Linked DNA regions of Homo sapiens: region 2 is linked to region 1. Evidence: fine-mapped expression QTL. Tissue or cell type: whole blood. Region 1 holds a variant in brackets; the other region holds the start of a gene. All regions are shown on one strand. Distances are between the middles of the regions.

Region 1 (5,147 bases):
GTGTTAGCAGGATTTGACTTGTAATACTGAGCACTTATAGGACCTTTGTGATTCCCAAGCACTTACCATACATTTGTGAAATGCACAGTGTAAGAAAAGTCAGTGTCAAAGCAAGTCACAAGACTGGCCTAGATTCAAGGGGAGGGGAAATAAATTTCACCTCCTGATGGAAAAGAGTGGATATGTACAGGGCTGGAGGATTACTGGTGATGATCTCTGCAGATAATCCATCACACTGAGGCTACCTAGGAAAAAGGGTTGGATTTGAAGTCAGCTGACCTGACTTCGAGTCCCATTTCCCCACCTCCCTAGCTGAGAGATCTTGGGCAAGTAGTGAGGCCTCTGAGTTGTGGCTCCCTGCTCTATGGAAGTCTCTTCACTGAATTTTTATCAGTGCGAATTTTGAGGGATCATGCATGGCAAAGCACTTTGCCAATCGTGGCCTAACTACCTAGATGGGGAAGGGATTGCAGTGGCTTCTACTCTCTCCCCATACCACTGCTTGTTGCCTTAGCTAATCAGGAGTCTTCTCTCCTTCTGGATCTTAAAATAGATTTTTTTTTATTTAAAATGTCTTAATTCCTCTTGGATTCCCATGATTTCCAGTTTTGCTTTCTGGCTCTGTTTTCCAGTGTTTCACGAGGATGCACCCCAGTCTCTCCCCATGGACTGCCATGAACAGTTGCACAATATTTTTCTGCATCAAAGCACCTGGCCTTGGGGGAACTAGGGGGCTGAACTTTGGCTGTGTTCTGCCCACCAAGCCATGCACCCTGGGGCAGAGCTGCATCTACCTAAAGGGGTCACTTGTCCTTGTGCCTACAAAAGCTCTGTGTGGACTGGAAGTGACCATACCTGGTGCCAGCCCTAATGGGGCTTGAGAGGCCACCAGTGGGGGCCCATCAGCCATCAGCACACAGACCCTCCCTGCTCCATGCTTCTTGACTGTCCAGGGCTGCATATGGTAGAGTCTTTTCTGTTTGACTCTGGGGTTCAGGGGTCCCCCCTGTTTACCCAGTGGCCTGCTTGACTTCTCTTCCCAGCCCTCTCAACCCCTCACCCGGCTGCTGCCTGTCACCCTCCATCCACCATGCTGCAGAAATTATTTTTATAAACTCCTCCTTGACTGAAGTGCCACTTTAAAGAATTTAAAACACCACTGCTGTCTCCTAATGAGAAGGAGAAGAGACGCAGAGGCACTAAATTCTCTAGAGCTTTCCTGTAGCGTTCTGATGTCGCCATCTCTGGAAATATTTCTCCTGCCACAACACACAACATATTGGCGGGGGAGCATCACTACGTATTTTAGAACCATCCCCTTGAGCACTTTGCAACCTTCCAGGATTTCTAAACTACACACTGTTGACACCTCAGACTTCAAAAGCTGAGGGTAGGCATGCACATTGGGACAGGATGCTGGGCTCTGATTTTAACCAGTGTTTGCTAGGTGCCCCCACGCACCCACCCCTCGGCTGGGCCCCGGGGAGGGAAGTAAAACCACACAGGACAAGAACATTGTTTCTGTCTCATCCCATCCTAGATGGGGTCCCTGATGTCCTGGTCTTTGGAAGGATGTCAGCTGCTCAGGTGCACAATGAGGGGAGTTCAACCTTGACTTCTGGAGCCAGCCGGACCCAGGCACCCTTAGCACCCTGCAGTTGCAACTCTACCATTTCCTATGCCAACCTGCCCTCATTGATCTAAGTTATTCTTTGTTTTCTGGACCTAATCCCCTGACTGCCTACTATTTGAAACCAGCCTCCCTGGCTGCACCCAACATCCCTCATCCTCATCCTCCCCTGGGGCTGCTTCTGCAGAGCCACCAGGCCATTGCCTGCTGAGCTGCAAGTATTATTTGCCACCTCAAACATCCACCACATGGCAGCCTCGCCACCTATGGAGCTCCTCCTTCCTCTCCAGATGCCCTGGGCATGGCAGTGGGGCTTCCAGATGCCCTGTCCCACCTTTGGAGCCAGACTCTGTAACTGGGTCCTTCCCTGCACCATACTGCCTGTCCCAGCTTCCTTCTCCTCCCCACCAGCCTGTGTGGCGGATGCCCCATCCAGTTCACCTCCTAAAATGCTCTTTCATCTTTTACTTCCTCTGCATCCACACCAAGCCTGACTTCACCCCGCCAACATCTATTGCTTGGATGAGAAAATAGCCCCTAATGCATCTCCCTGCTTCCAGCTCTGCCCTCTTGAATCCATTCTTCATAATGAAGCCAGAGGAGGTTTTCTAAAGCCACAGGCTGTCA[T/G]GCCCTTCACCCTCTGGAACATTTCATGGGTGCCTTTCCACAGCCTTCATGCCACTCAGGACCAGCCCTGCCCAACTGATGCTTTATGACCCCTCCCTGCACCACACCAGGAGACTGAGTAGGTGCCGTTCCCCCGCCTGGTGACCTCTTTCATCTCCAGAATCTGAGTACTGAGTTCAAATCCTAATGCAGCTCATTACTAATGGTGTGAGCTTATCATTAGGGGAGGTTAATCCGTACCTGTTTCACCAGAAGAGGTTAGTTGAGATGTGATGTCTGAAGTTAATAATAATAGTAACAATTATGATAATAATGATGGCTAATATTTAGATTGTGTTGATTAAATAGACAAAATATTTATCCTCTCAAAGCCTCAGTTTTTCATCTGTAGAATAGGGATAGTGGGGTTGATTTGAGGCTTAAATGAAATAATGCTTATAAAGCCTTTACTATGTGCCTGGCATTGGCAAGTGTTCTTTAAAAGTGAGCTGTTGTTATCATTGTGCTGATCCAAATACCTGGAATTCTAGTCTGGCTCTCACCACTGTCCCACTGCCTTGACCCTTGACCCTTTCCTTACCTCACCTGCCTGGATGACTCTCATTCATCTTTTAGATGTCACTTCCACCTGGAAGTCCTCCTGGACTCCTTCTGTCTATGTTAGGCACCACTTCCCTGGATCCCTGCTCTGAGTGCTGTTGTAGAATGCACCTCTCACACTGAATCTTGATGGCAGTTTGCTGGTCTACTTGCCCTGCAGCCTGTAAGCCCTTGAGAGCGGGGTCTACATCTTCCTGGCGTGGTCATCTCATACCTGGGGTAACACCTGGTACTCAGCAGGTGAGAAGGAAACATTCAGTGCAGGAACCAGTGAAGGCCAGGTGGCCTCCGCACACTTGCTCCTTAGGGCAGGATCTTCTCTGTCCTTGAGGACTTCAAGGCAAGAATAATAAGCATCAAACAATGGTGAATGGTACAAGATGGTGCATGCATGCTTTACAGAATTAACAGGACAGACAATCAGCCTGCCTGCTCAGAGAAGGGAGCTATCACTGTTGGCATATTGAATATTGTTTGAAATAAATGGGCCACCGACCAGGATGTGGAAATTGCTTTTGTCATACAGAAAGTTTCATTGCAATGGTACTTGTGTTAGCAGGATGTGACTTGTAATACTGAATACTTATAGGACCTTTGTGATTCCCAAGCACTTACCATACATTTGTGAAATGCACAGTATAAAAAAATTCCAATTGTTAGGAGATTGGCAGCTCCAATTTCCTGCAGCAGTTCTTCAATTTTTCCTTGATCACAGTCCTCCACTGTGGCCTGGTGTTTCTCCTTCATGGCTCCTCTGAAGTGGGCATGGGTCTCTGGCCAGGAAGAACAGTGCCTCCTGGGACACAGGCATGCCCACCTGCCCTGGAGCCATGACTCTGTCTTTTCTCAGGACTGGAAAGGCTGGTGCACCTCAACATAGACTCTGGGGAAAGGTACCATTTTCTGTCTGGAAGCTCCTCCTCTGCTTGCTAGGGGATAGCACCATGTTTCAAAGCCAGGCCACTTCTATCTCTTTCTCCTGTAGAAGGGAACATGACAGACATGTTTCAGCATTCTTGCTGGGGACTTCAGGACACCCAAAGGAAACCACGTCATACTCCAGATGATCTGTCCCTGTGCACCCAACCCCAAAATGTACCATCTCTGTTTGGTGTGATCTGCCATGTGCTGCAGCCCAGTAGCCAGGGCTTCTTGTGGCTGTAGCCACCTGCCTAGCTCAGTTCCCATCTCTTGCCACAGAGAGCAGCCCCTCCTTCCCCACAGCCTGTATTCCACCCATCATAGGACAGTGCCTAGTGAATAGCAAGCACCATCTAAGCATTAGCTGTCATCATCGTCATCATTATCTTCTTCTTCTTCTTCAAAATCCAGATCTAGGCCAGGTGTGGTGGCTCACGCCTGTAATCCCAGCACTTTCGGAGGCCAAGGCAGGCAGATCATGAGGTCAGGAGTTCGAGACCAGCCTGACCAACATGGTGAAACCCTGTCTCTACTAAAAATACAAAAATTAGCTGGGCGTGGTGGCATATGCCTGTAATCCCAGCTACTCAGGAGGCTGAGGCAGGAGAATTGCTTGAACCCAGGAGGCAGAGGTTGCAGTGAACTGAGGATCGTGCCACTGGACTCCAGCCTGGGCGAGAGAGTGAGACTCCATCTCAAAAAGCAAACAAACAAACAAACCCCCCAAAATCCAGATCTAAGTTTACCTCTTAGGTTTCTGGTTAACTGTACCTAATGATAATGGATTTTTCTCATTGGAATTTTCAGTTTACAAAGCACTTTCACATCCATTCTCTTACTGCAGGCTCGCAGCACATCTGGGAAGTTGATCAGCTGCGGCAGGGCGTGCCACCTCCATTTTTCTGATGGTGAAGAATTTCTGAAAGGTCTAGAGCTTTGGCTCATGGTGTGTGGGTCAGAGTCAGGAACTGTGCTGATCCCAGGCTCAAAGCCTGGACTCCTGTGATGCACACATACTTCTTAGATCATGCAAGAAAGAAATTTTATCTCAGGACCCAGTACACACACTCACCCCACAAAAAGCTGAAACAAAGTTTTATAACATAATACTTTCCTTACTGCATGCAATGTGCACTGCCTTCCTCCTACTCCCCTCCCTTCTCCTCCACTCCTCTCCTGTCCCCTCCCCTCCCTTCCTCTCTCCTCCTCTCCCCTCCCCTCCCCTCTCAGCCCCTCTGCTCCCTTCCTCTTCCCTCCACTCCCCTCCCCTCCTTCTATTCTCTCCCCGTTAACAGGGCATGACTTTTCACTGCATATCTGGGACTCTTCCTACCCCATTCTCCCAACCCCCAGGTCTGCTTCTCACCTG
Region 2 (5,147 bases), 390 kb before region 1:
AAAAACATTAATGCCCAAACCAATTTGCAGATTAATCTTACAATATTCATTTTGTAATCTCTTGTGCCTGCACAGTGCCTGGCCAAAAAAAAAAAAAAAAAAGAAAAAGAAAAGAAACAGGCTTTCAGTAATTTCATATTTATTGAATGTTTATATGCCATCTACGTTATAAAGAGGATACAAATTCCAAGATTCTATTTCCAAGATAACGAGAAGACAAGGAAAATCCCTGAGAAGCAATGCTGAAGAAAAACCATTACTTGAGGGCTTTTCACTCACTTGTGTGTGGAATGAGTCCGTTCTGTTTCCATAAATTAAACACCTCAGCATCGCAATGAAAACCAACATTACATTAGTTCCTAGCAAGACTTTTGTTTACAGGCTCAACAGAAAGAGCGAGAATTGAATGAAGCAGGAAAACAATTATCCCCACACCCGTAAAAGTGATTTCTCAGAAGCAAAACACCCTGAAAGGAAAAAAATGGGGATAACCAGAAGAAAGTAAGATAAGCATTGTCAATACTTATCTTAAGTGTATTCTTGGAAAAGTTAAAAATTATTTCATTGAAAATGAAAACCCACTTTGAAAAATACACAAAGAGTAAATATAAATACTTTAAATATTTAACAGACTCTTTTAAGTGAACATTCATGTGATGCTGGAAAGCATCAACAGGAAGAGGAAGTTCTGTTTCTGGAGTAGCTGTTATGGTATGATAATGGAATTTGGCCCTTTTAAAATCAACAAATGAGTCTTACAATTGGGTAAAACTCTTATTAGGAAATTAAGACTACTTTGTGCAGAAGCACTATTGTTGCACTTTTCATCAAAGAGCTTTGGCCCTCTAATTCAGTTACTTGATCTATTTTTTCACGGTGTAATAATTCGAAGACTGACTTAAAAATAAAGCAAGCTGACAAATTTGGGACTAGCATGCAGTGTCATAATTAAATTGAGAATGAAATGTGGTCAAGGAATCAATATGCTTTTTATCCCTTACCCTATAAACAAGAGTAACTTAGGATAAGCAAACTGCACTTCAACCACACATGGTCTAGCTCAATTCGCCACCCACCACCATGCAACACTGGTAGGTGCTATAAAGGACAGACACAGAACTCAACAAATTCAGCTGCGCGCTTACACTATGCTTACGGCTTATATCTCTTAAACGCCAAGTGTTTCTGGAAGACGAAATATTTAAATACAAGAATTAAAAGCAAACCCCATGATTTACCCTCATTTCTTCAGCTCCTGGACATTGCTTCCAGCAAGAACCTGTGATTTACTGGTAATGTCAACATTCTGGAAAGTTATTAGATAATAATTAAACACCGTGCAGGTCAACATCTGAAAGAGATCAAGTTCCCAGATCACCATGCAGTAGGCTCAACATTAAGTTCACAGGTAGAAATTCCTAAAATGTAATTGTCTTGAGAATCTACTGCAGGACACGGCTAAAGCTGATAAATAATACACCAATACCGAGCCGACTTCAGGCACCGACCTTCACCTAAAATGACCTTCTCCTCTGATTTCCAGACGAGTACACAATCCTAATGCACACTACAGGCGGAAAACCACAATCATGGTTTTGCCTCCCCCTTCTCTGAGAATCGGAAGGGAAGTTTCTCTCCGGAAAAATTACATTTCCAAAAGCCAATCAACTGGATAACTCGGCAGCAACCCCAGGCTAACTGCACAGCTCCGAAACAACCCTCTTTCCTCTGCCTGTCAACTTCGCTGGCCAAAGGCAATCTGCAATCACCGACTCCCCTGCTAGGTCGGGCCCGATTCCGGGAGGCCGAACGAAGGAGGAATTCATACCAACCTGTCGGTGATAGTAGACTGTGTGCCACTCATTGGGGCCCTTGGCGAGAGGTCCTCCTTTTATCCAACTTGCATTTTACAGTAACACCTCCTCCCCACCCCCAGTGCTCTGGGATCAGGCCCAACTCCGTCAGGGACACAAAAGTCCAACTCAAAACTCCATTCAGTCATCTAGACCATCCGACTGTAAGGGGTCAACGGATGCGGCTTGGAGCAAAACAAGTTATCTCCCAAAACGAACTGAGAAAGCCAGGGAGCGAGTCAGTCCAGAGTGAGTCGAGCTAGAGAGAAATCCTCCAGAAGGCACAAGGATAAACTTCCTCAGAGAGGGAAATCCGCGCGCAGTGGGAAGGGGACCCGGGACTCCCGCCGGGGCTGGGGCGGGATCAGCTCACGGACGGGTGTCGGCTCCTCCTCCGGAGTCTCGGGGCCTCGAACTCCCCGCCGCGGCAAGGGCCGGGGCCCTCCCTCCCGGCTCTCTATCTGGGGCTGCCGGCTGCTCGTGGCCGCAGCGTTGGCCGCGTCTCCGGCCGTCCCGCGCCGGGCTCGCGCGATTCCATGTCCCGGGCCCGGGGCTCCTTCTGTGCTCGCCGCCCTCACCAGGCTCCCGGTGCTGGGACGAGCCGCTGGCGCCGGCGGAGAGGTCCCGCGGCCCGAGGTGACAGGGACCCGGGTCTCTCAGCGCCGCGGACTGCTCCCCATCCCTTTGAGGCCCGGACTCTTCCGCAATCGCCAGAGGCGGCGGCTCCTCCCCGACGCTCCCCGCGAGGGGCGGGAGATGCCCGTCCGGCCCGGCCTGGAAGCCCTGGTCCGGGAGGCGGAGGCGGCGGCGTCTCCCGGCGCAGGGCCGGCTCGCCGGGTTCTGGAGGCCCTCGCGGGCGCGCGCGCAGACAGCGGAGGAGGCCGGCGGCCGTGGGGGCCGCGCAACCGCGGGCGCGCGCGCGGGTTCCGGTTCCGGTTCTGGTTTCCCGGCCCTGGCCGCGTCCGGCGCGAGCTCGCGCTTCCCGTCCCCCGCCGACTTTATGGCCCCCTCCCCTCTGACTTCGGGAAGCCGCCTCACCCGGGATCCCTCCGCCGCTCAGGGCCGCGCTCTCGCCCTTGAACGGACGCCTCCGCCGGAGCCCGGTTTGGGAGAGCGGCAAAGTAGTCCTACGGGGCAGAGGGAGGTGGGACCCGTGCAGCCCCGGGAGGCCCACCCACCTCCCGCGGCGCCTGGGCCCCTGAGTGCCGAGACATGCCCCTTCGAGTCCAGTTTGTACTAAGTCGACTTTCACCAGAGACCGCCCGAGAGCGCCCCCCAGATCCCGAGGACATCGTGCCGGGAGGCTCTTTGAAAATTACCAGCCCCCCTTGTCCTGGAAACTTTTATTACTTAAGGGAATGTATTATCTCTCCTGTCTTCTGGCTGCACGCGTTCTGCCGGTTCCCGGCCGGCGCCCCTCGCTGCCTCCGCAGGCCCCGCTCACCTGGGCACCTGCCGGCTCCGGGGGGAGAGCGCTGCATGAGCCGGAGGCGCAGGGCTGCGGGAGAGCAGCTGGGGACTGCAGCCAGGGTTTCTCGGTATAAATATTACTTTTAGGCTGTTTCTGCCTTGGCAAAATGAAATGTGTTATTTGCCAAATTGATAAAGCATGGTGCTTTCCATGGCGACTTAACAAGCGTGTTGTGGAAAGAACTGGGAGAAGAAAATGAAGTATATTTATCCAGTAAATAGCATTACGGTTCTCTCTGAAGGATTCCCAAACGGTTTTTCGGTTTTTTCCCCTACTGGGTAGAGAGCTTTAGATACCCATCTAGTTTTATGATTGAATAATTCAGTATTTTGGCAATTTAGGTACCACATGTAATACAGTTCTTCAGTTCTGCCTGCAAACATCCAAAGTGGCTATTCCCTTTATCCAACTATTTTCAGACTTTTGAGCTTAAACCTATGTTGGTGACAAGGGATTTCAGCCATTTTGTGGAATCCAAGTAGCAAATCAAATCTAATAAACAGTGGATGTGGAGAGAGGAAACAATTACCTCTTAACAATGCTGTTGCAAAAAGTCATTCCGCAACAGTTCATGAAAGGATCATTATCCCCGAATAGAGGCATGAGCTCACGCTGACGTTAGTTAGAACGGGGGGGAAAAAAAGGAAAAGATAAACAGAGACCAGAGACGACTCTTTATTGCTCGATTTTTTAGGTTCAAGGCACAGCCAACTAATTTTGTAATGTTTATTTTTGGAAAGAATAGAAGCAGATTAGCCAAGGCACTTCCCTAATGATGAGACCAGGACACATTGCCACCTGCTGGTGTATTCTAGCATGACAATTCTACCCTGAAGACTCTTAAATTGAGTGTTTACATGCAACCGGAAGGAATCCCATTCATATATATATATATATATATATATATATATATATATATACACACACACACACATATACACATATACACACATATATACATATATACACATATATATACATATATATACACATATATATACACACATATATACATATATATACTGACCAAAATGCAAACCTTATCCCCAAACTTAATAAATCTTTCTTAAAAGTACTAAATATCTTATTTTCCCCTATCCTAATAATGTTACAGTGTAAGTATAAAATTAATTGAACCCAATGACTCATCAAATCATGCATTTTGGAGTTCCTCTCTTCCCTTAATACTTGAGGGAAGCCTCAATACTTAAGCTTCAGGAATAAAACAAACTGGGAAAGTTTCCTAATTCACCTTCTCTTCCTTGCATACAAAACCTCTTGGCAAGCTGCTTTCAAGATCTTTCCAAACTTAAACAGACCCACGGTTCTAGCTGTGAGCAAAGAAGGCATTTTGCTGTGGGAAAGCTTCAGAAGATGGTAAGCAAAAGATTGAATTAAGCCAGTGGTTATTCATTCCAGAACTAATTTTTTTAAATGATGAAAATCTCTATAGTCACCTACAAAGCATTAATGATTTAAAAAAAAAAAAAACTGAAAGCCTCTTTAAAGCTGCCGATAGCTCAACTGTTCTAAAGGCTGTAACTATAGGATGCCTTCAGAAAGTCAAGCCAGTCTGGGTAGAACACACTCCTCAGGGTCCGTAGTACTTTACTTAGAAAAATGACATTGATGACCCAATCCACTGGGAAAACCTTTGAGGAGGTTTTCCAATGGGGATGATTCTAAACCACATTCTCATCCTCTTGTCCATTCTTTCAACATGCTTACTAAGTATCTACTATGCATCCCAGACTGTTTTAGGCATTGGTAGTACAGTCCTCAAGACAGGGCCTCCAGCTGTCTTCAGATGATGTCTCTGATGT

Evidence for each region. PIP is the estimated chance that this variant, and not a neighbour inherited with it, causes the effect.
Region 2: it holds the start of ARHGEF12, and the variant in region 1 is fine-mapped to the expression of ARHGEF12 in whole blood (TOPMed, PIP above 0.99).

Annotation. Positions count from the first base shown.
Region 1 is chr11:119,944,458-119,949,604 of GRCh38, reverse strand. LOC105369526 (a long non-coding RNA gene) reads right to left here. Exons shown (of 8, transcript XR_948083.3): 4 at 4,550-4,797; 5 at 3,473-3,836; 6 at 3,072-3,190; 7 at 67-245. Among named protein-coding and RNA genes, the nearest start is that of LINC02744, 48 kb to the left of the region's middle. The variant T/G (reference allele first, on the strand shown) is at 2,258.
Region 2 is chr11:120,333,961-120,339,107 of GRCh38, reverse strand. It overlaps ARHGEF12 (Rho guanine nucleotide exchange factor 12), which reads right to left and starts at 2,695. Exons shown (of 41, transcript NM_015313.3): 1 at 1,833-2,695. The coding sequence starts at 1,864. RefSeq lists a silencer at 2,239-3,108.